Linked DNA regions of Homo sapiens. The protein of the gene in region 1 purifies or fractionates together with the protein of each later gene. This does not show direct contact. Each region holds a gene or a part of one and is shown in the gene's direction. Other genes may lie near its edges.

Region 1 (4,660 bases):
TTTAGTTCTGTGTGATTGGTTGTGTACAGTTATTTTTATGATAACCTTGTGGGCAAAATGGGTATTAGGACTATAATTTTAGAACCATGTTTTCTGGTTCTCTTGTCTTGTAGAACGGTTTAGTTTCAACTAAGAGAAGAAATATTGTGCACTGAAAATGAAGAGAAAATCACTGGCCATAAAGGAATTTCTTGTCTTGAGTGCGGTACAGTCTGCCATCATTGGTTGGCAGGGGTAACAACCTGGGGAGGCTGGACTGTGGATTGCATGGTCAAGACTGGTCTTTGAGAAGCTGGGCTTTTCTCGTAATACTGATTCTGCCTACTGCACACCCCAAACATGATCTGTCTCTAACTCTCATTCCTACCTCTAATCTGTAATTTTTCTTCCTGGCTCCTGAATCATTACTCAGCCTCTGAATTCACTTTAGGTAGGGCTGGCTTCTTGCTCCCACCAAGCTTTTAAACTGAAACCACAGAATAACTCTTGCTTGAGTTATTACTAACTCGATAACTCTTGTGTTTTTTTGTGGGACAGGATTTACCTGCTAGTAGTTTGCTGAAACTCCACATAAAAACATATGCTGCATGCAAGAGAGCCCAGAAGATCTTGGGATGAGTGTTCCTCAGGCCAGGAAGCATCTGCCACAGCTGGGATCTTTCCTACTGAGTAGCTTTGCACCATGTGCACTGACACTGGAGATCCCTGGAATTTTGCATAGGGCACTGCTAACTTGTTGGGTTGATGGCAATCTCTTTGACAGACAGCGTATTTTTCTTGAATAGAGGCCAGGCTTGTTAATGTTTTCCCTTAGTAAAACAGAAGGAGGTTAAGAACTGGGTGCAGGGCCGGGCATGGTCGTTCACGCCTGTAATCCCAGCACTTTAGGAGGCTGAGGCAGGTGGATCACGAGGTCAGGAGTTTGAGACCAGCCTGACCAACATGATGAAACCCTGTCTCCACTAAAAATACAAAAATTAGCTGGGTGTGGTGGTGCACACCTATAATCCCAGCTACTCAGGAGGCTGAGGCAGGAGAACTGCTTAAACCCAGGAGGCAGAGGTTGCAGTGAGCTGAGATCACACCACTGCACTCCAGCCTGTGAGACTCCATCTCAAAATAAATAAATAGAAAAAGAACTGAGCACTTCTCTGAAAAGCACTGGTCATCTTGGGAGTCTCTGGGGATCTCATTACAAATTTTATTTTTATTTTTTAATTTTTAAAATAGAGATCAGGGTCTCACTATGTTGCCCAGGCTGGCCTCAAACTCCTAGCCTCAAGTAACCCTCCCACCTCAGCCTTCCAAAGTGCTGGGATTACAGGAATGAGCCACCATGCTGGGCTCTGGGGATTTAAAGAAGCTCTTGATGGACTTCATTTTCAGGGCTGTACTTTCCAACCAGCAGGTGAAGAGCTGAATCACTAAGGGCACAAATGAAAAGGGAGGGGCAAAATATGAAGGCTTTATATTTCCTTTTGAGGGACGCAGCTCCAGTCTAACTTGCCACTCTGTGAACTTCACTACTGGAAAGCAACAAAGGTAAGAGAAATGTTTCTGTACGTTATTATCTCAGCTGTGCTTGTTGTCAAAGGGGACAATAAATAAGAGTAAACTGTGGCATTTGGACAGGTTGCATAATGAACCAAATGAAGGGGCAACTTATTATTTAATTGAGTATGACTTTTGCTGACCCCTTGATAAATACATTAGCATACTTGGATGCCATTGATAGTGTGCATTTAAAAATCTTTGAGGCAGGCTGACTTGATTTCAGATCTTTGTTTAGTAAAATGGAACTCCGTTGATATTTTCTACTTACTAATCTTCATTCAAAACACAAGCTAGTCATGCATGCTGTGGCCTCTGTGTATTGACACACTTCTTAGCTCCTTAGAAGATCTTAACTTACTATGCTAGCCTTATTAATTGCTATGTGTTGGAGACAATTTCTTTCTTTTTCTGCCTCTCAGTTTCCTCTTATAGCTTTAAAATTAGTCTCCTAAGTAATATGTGTATTCTGTACATGCAGGTAAAATATAATGGTTTATGTTTATGTGAACATTCTGAAATTCCTACTATTTTTAGGAATGAGCATATGTGAAATTCACAAAGTTGTAGGGCAGAGAGTAAGAGTAAAAGAATAGCTCTGATTTAGGGAAAGAGAGGTAGGTGCTAGATAAGTGGTCATGAGAGAAGAGTCTTGTGAAAGGGGAAGAATGTACACAGGGTATGGTACATACTGTAAGATACTGGTGTCTTAGCCACCCTTGGAGATGTATTTCCCCCAAAAGGACAGAACCAGACCCTCCGTCTGTTGCAGTCCTTCAGTGTCAGTATCCCTTCAGATAAGATAAGATGTGTTCCCTTCCACACGTATCCCAAATAGAGTTGTCTCTTCTGGAAATCCCTCTTCTCAACCTCAAAGGGCTACAGTGACAGATATCCTTCTTTTCTTCGTTTCTGTCATAACAACTTCCAGATGACACAACTCATTTGCTTGAAGATTTTTTTTTTCCAAGACACAGCCAACATTCCCTTACCACGTGAGTGGGCTGTTTTGGGGGTCCATATGCATCTTTGATAAAATTCTGGGTGACTTGGGACTTCTGCCTTCCATAAGTTCTGCTTCCCTGAAATGGGCTAAGCAACATTAATTAGACTAGCTGTAAAATATCCAGAATATTGGTTTCCCTAACAAGTATTGATTCCTGGGTGAATGTGGAAGACACTGACAATTTCACAGAAGAATTTTCTCTGCCCTTACAGAATGTTCAATGTAGTGAGGAATACCAACATATTAAATGAACCAAAATCTATAAATCCATCCATACACACCTCTGCACATGAAAAGACAATCACCCAGATGTAGAGGGAATTGTCAATAAAACTAGTTAAATATATGGTTAACATAGAAACTCCATTGTGAAAGATCTCTGCAAACAGAAAGGTAGAATTTTGGAAAATGAATGAGGAAAGCCCGTGCACTTTGGCACTACATTAATACTATAGTTAAAACTCTGTCTTGCCAAGAAACAAAGTTCATTTGATATTTAGCATGTCTATTGGCAAGACAGAGTTTTAATATTATTGATTAGAATTTGAATTATTCTAATTCAAACTATCATTAATACAAAGTTCATTTGAATTAACTATAATTATGTATTGCCAATGATTTTTGAGAAAAACCTGAACCTGAAGTATTCTTTCTTGGTACTATGAGTTCAATGCTTGAAGAGCTGTAAGATCCAACTGTGAAGTGAGGCGAACATCATCACTCACCCTGCAAGACTCAAGATTCTGAATAATACACATATAGTACTGGCACATACATGAACCCTGTAAGTTGGCCATTTCCTTTACAAAGAAATTCTCACACAGCTGTGTAAGGGAGTAGGTGTGCTGATATTCATCATGGCACTGTTTGTGGTGGCATGAGGAAGGAAACCATTTGGGCATCTGCCATCGGCAAATGAATGGGCAAATTAATATGGTGGAAGCAGAAGAATGCAACAGTTAGAAGGTACGGACTATATTCCCAGAATAACATGGATGAATCTTAAAAATATAGTACTAGGTGAAAAGTATGTGAAAACTTGTATTTTTTTGTTTTTCTTTGTTTTGTTTTGAGACAGGGTCTTACTCTGTCTCCCAGCCTGGAGTACAGTGGTGCAGTCACTGCTCACAGCAGCCTTGACCTCCTGGGCTGAAGCAATCCTCCCACCTTAGCCTCCTGAGTAGCTGAGACTGCAAGTGTGTGCCACTGTGACTGGCTATGTTTTTAATTTTTTTGTAGAGACGGGGTTTTCGCCACGTTGCCCAGGCTGGCTTCAAACTCCTGGGCTCAAGGGATCCACCTGCCTCCGCCTCCCAAAGCTGATGTTAAGTATTATCTAACATAACTTCATTTATGAAAATTTAAAAATGCGTAAGATAAAGAAATCAATGTTTTACAGGAGCACATATACATAAAAGAATATGCTTTAAACAAATTATAAGTGGTGTCTATGGTGGTGGAGAAGAAAGGAAATGAACTGGGTCAAAGGCCATAAGTAAAGAAGAGAATGGCCTTCTAATCCAGTCATGGCTTATGCCAAGAACCAGAGCATGTGATGACCTCAACCTTGTGTACTTGTGGTTATAAAAGAAGAAACAATCAAATAAACAGACTAATAAAAGTGTCTGGCACACAATAAGTGGCCTATCAGTGTATTCCAAACTCTTTTCTTAGGTGCTCTAGTAACTGCAGGGCTACAATAGTTATGATATGTGAATAGGCGATTTTATAACAACAACAGGACATAAATTTAAGATAAATAAATTCACGTTACTTTCCAGAATGCAACTCCACTAGCTTACTTAATTCACTAAAATGCAGAACATAGTGTGAAGAGCAACTGACTTGGATATACTTCACGATTGGAAGTGCTTTCATTATTAAAGTAACTAAACAAAGGGCTGTCAAAGACACTGTTATTACCACACATAATACAGAGAGCTGTATTAAAATCACCTTAAAGGAAAACATCCTGTCAAAGGTACAGAATTGTATTTTAGCAAAATAAGATGAGTAAAACCCTTCTGTTATATTTTTTAAAAACTGTCAAGAGCAAAGAAAACTGTGGTCCAGGCTTGGTGCTGTATAACTACTGGGTCCTAT
Region 2 (3,916 bases), on another chromosome or scaffold:
GATATAAGGGGTTATTTGCCAACTCAGTCCTCCTTTGATGTTGACAGCTTCTATTTTTTCTCATCTTAACATATTTGGATGAATCTTTAGGTATCAGGTCACCATGGGCTCTTGCACATGAAACACCAAAATGACTGGAGAGCTTATCATACCTGGAAGGGTGTGAGTCCACAGGAGGCTTGGGCTAGCATTGCCCCAACAAAGTTCTTTGTTTTCCCTTGTAGGCTCTTTGTCACTTGGCAGTGTCTTCCCTAAGGTGACATCCCCATTCTGCTTTCACAGGCCACCTCACCAGACCCATCCTGAGGTCATCCCAAAATCAGTCCCTGGCAGAAGCCAAATTTGTCTGTTGGCAGAGAAATGTTCTGGATCATTGGTGTTTTGACTGGAAGGGCTGGTGCATCAGGCTGCCATGCAGCAATGTTAAGCTGTGATTTCACTGGGGGATTAAGTAAGACACAACTCGGCCCGAGTCCCAGTTGTGATGGGGGCTTGGGGTGATGTAGTACTAGTTTTAAGGAAGATGGCACTTTCCTAGCCAGGAACTTCCCCAGTCCTTTCTCATTCCAGACTCACTGAATGGTGGTTTGAGGAGCTGTAGGCTCCAAGGACCCAAACCAGGTCTGCCAGGCTTCCTCACAGCCATATTTGAATTATTAAACAGGATATGTGAAAAGCAAAACCTTGTGTGTGGAAACAGATGGTGAGTTATTTATGAGGAGCGGCCTCCGTCCGCCCCATCTACCTCGGGCAGTACATTTGCCTTCTCCCACGTGTCTCCTCAGCTGTGTGCCACCATTTTTCCCCTTCGCTGTTTCCCATTCTCTCATTGTCTTATCAGTGCCCTGCTTCTTTCCTTTCCTCCAGGGTGTTGGCATAGTTCCCTCCTGCACTCCCTCCTCCTCTTCCTCTCTGCCTGTCCCACCCCACCCCGAAGGCAGCCTGAGAACAGTTTTGGCCCCAGACCGAGATGGGGAGCTGTGGACCTGGGCTATGGTCATGGTTTCTCCTGTATGTCACCAGGGGGGGGCCCAGCTTTTGATGTGCACTGGGCAGAATGAATCGTTTCTTCCTCACTGTTAGTGAAGTAAACCATGAGAAAACATCCCAAAAAGGCTGAAGTGCTTATATAAATGTCTGCATTTCTATCATGCTGAATTATCATTGTAGTAATAGTAGATAAACTGACTCTAGAACAGAAGGTCCATGATTCTGGGCTGTGTTGCTTTGGAGCTGACCGAGTGGCAGCTGCTCTGCTAGGAACTCATACCAGCTTTATAAGTGGCCATTCCAGGCGTGGTATGACAGGATTCTGAGCCATAGTTTTGTATCCAGAAAACCCAGAGGAAGGACAACCAAAGAATAGGTAGTGAATTCTTACATTGTAAAATTAGAGCATGTAGGGAAGGAAGGAAGGTGCTTATGTCAGCAAAGCACCCAACCCTGAGTCTCCCTAGTTAGCTGGGCTGTGGCTCAACCAGTTATTCCTCTTCATAAGAACAGTTTGGGGCAGAAAAATGTCCATGGCCTGGGGCCACATGGCAGAGCAGACTTCATGCTTACTTCACAACCTGGTTTAGCCATTACTTCATGTCTGCGGTACCAGAGGCCCATTCATTTTGTTGGCACAGATACCCCAGATTGCCTTTTTATTCACACTGGAGCTTTATTTCAGGAACATTCTTTTCTGATCAAATTCATACTCATTAATGCAACAGTTATTCATTGAACACCTAACCATATGCTCAGCACCATCCTAGTCCCTGGAGCTACAAGCGTGGACAGACAGACAAAACCCCTGCTGTCATGGAGATTCCATCCAAATGTGTATGAATATGATTTTTCAAGTGGCAACAACAGGCTAGGCCACCACAAAACACTAGCACAGTCAAATACCAATCCTCACACTTGATTTCTCTGTCAGAGTCCTCTCCTAGTTCAGAGAGGCAAGGATGCAGTTGGGAAGGGGCCCTGTGGAATCTGGAGGAGAAAGATGGGTAGCAGCCACAGTTGTTGGGCTTCAGCTTCCTGAGTTTTCCTCATGATTGATAGCGTGGGATTAGCATATGGGCAAGATGCAGCCTTTGTGGCAACAAAGATATATTCGAGGGAGACTGTAGCGGGTACATGTAGAAAACAGGATCCAGTGACCTTTCTGAGGAAAGCGAGTTGTCTTGTTCCAGGGTACTAATAAACTGTGGGTAATGAGATCCGCTATAGAGTAAAAGAGAGAATCCGGACTTGGGGATTTGGAGCTTAAATGATAGCCTAGACCAATGCTGTTGAATAGAACTTTATGTAATGATAGAAATGTTCTGCACTGTCTGATACATAGCCACTAGCCAGTAGCACAGGCTTAGACAGAAACCTTTGGGAGAGCGATTTTCTTGCATATTTTATCATGAATGTCTTCAGATGCAGTCAACCTGAGATGCAAGAGAAAGGTACTATTGTTATTCCCCCCTCCCCAGCACTCTTACGGCAACCCCCCTCCCAATAACAGGGCTCCTTTTATAGTCCCTAGCTTCTAATTTAAAATCAGCTTTAAAAATCTGCCTCCACTGTCCCCATTGGGATTGGACATCAGCAGGAAGCATGGCACCATTTAGTGGTGCTGATGACGCCAGATTCTTTGTGTTAACAGCTTGTACATTAGGAGCAAGCTTTGTGACTCATTATGATATTAGAATTTTCCAGGACATGTTTGGCATAAGCAATAGCTAGGTGTCATTTCTGCTGATTCCCACGCAGGTGCTCATCAATCGTGTTAGATGAATTAGGAGTTCTCAAATTTAAGAGTATTAAAAAATTGGTTTTTACAAACCTTTTCTTAGTCAAAAAGGCCATTATTGATTTTTCCATGGCTTTTTAATTTGTTTTTGGGTAGTCACCAAAAGAAAGGCTCTAAGAACAGCTTTCCTGTCCCTGATGGCTATGCTGTACTAAGCAGTGGCTCTGTTGCAGATGGACAATGCGCAGGACCTGCTTTCCTTTGGTGGTCTTCAAGTGGTGATCAATGGGCTGAACAGCACAGAGCCCCTCGTGAAGGAGTATGCTGCGTTTGTGCTGGGCGCTGCCTTTTCCAGGTGAGCAGTATAATGGACGTCCCAATGGCCAGAATTGCTTGGCCTGATCTGCTTGGAAGAAGGGTACACTTGAATGTGCCTGTTGCTACTGACATTTCAGTGTCATCTCAATGAAACTAGAGTAAAATTTGATTCTGCCCTTATTCCAAGTAGATAGGAATTTTTACCCATGTTGTCACCATCTGTGACTCTCTGTTCCCCCATCTTATGTGTATGGACATTTAATAACACATCTTAGGTCACATTCTCTGTTTTATTCAAAGCTTGTAAAAAGTTAGACCAACTATAAATAGTAGAGAGGGAGGGGAATAAACAAGAGTAGGTCTTTTGGCAGTAAAGCTACATCTAGTGACGAATAAATGATGAGCCTGACCAAGGGGGTGCTTTCAGGGAGGAATGTGTCTTGCCCTAGTTGTCTGGAACCAATGTACATGCCGTCAGATTATCGCCCTCTCTAGGTTGGAAATTGTTGAGAATTTCAGTTAGTCTGGCTTGTGATGGAAGACTGATAAGGCAAGAGGAGTGGGGAGGTAGCATCTCGAAAGAGTAGATGCCAAAAGATATGTAGGCACCACATCATTCTACACCACCTGCAAAGGTCAAGATATCTGCATGCTGCAATTGGTCCATTGGAGCTATTGTTCCTCCCATTTTTGAAAATCTGCTCTTAGGACCATTTGTGCCTTTAAAACAGGAACAAATATTCTGATTCTTGCTGCAAGGGCATGGGTGGAGGCTATTAGATGCTTAGATGCAGGTCACGATGTTACAGGAGAAAAGCTATTCTGAACATATTTACCATTATAGGCTTTGTTTCGAGAAGATTTCCT

Evidence for each region. The genes of interacting proteins can lie anywhere in the genome.
Region 2: the proteins of SERPINB11 (region 1) and SIL1 purify together in Homo sapiens (affinity purification with mass spectrometry, with the first as the bait; one large-scale study listed by BioGRID). This does not show direct contact.

What each region holds. Positions count from the first base shown.
Region 1 is NC_000018.10:63,701,465-63,706,124, forward strand, and holds the start of SERPINB11 (serpin B11), read left to right. Parts: upstream 1-1,495; 5' UTR 1,496-1,542; intron 1,543-4,660. UniProt on the Homo sapiens protein: Has no serine protease inhibitory activity, probably due to variants in the scaffold impairing conformational change.
Region 2 is NC_000005.10:139,020,341-139,024,256, reverse strand, and holds part of SIL1 (nucleotide exchange factor SIL1 precursor), read left to right. Parts: intron 1-2,964; coding exon 2,965-3,086; intron 3,087-3,916.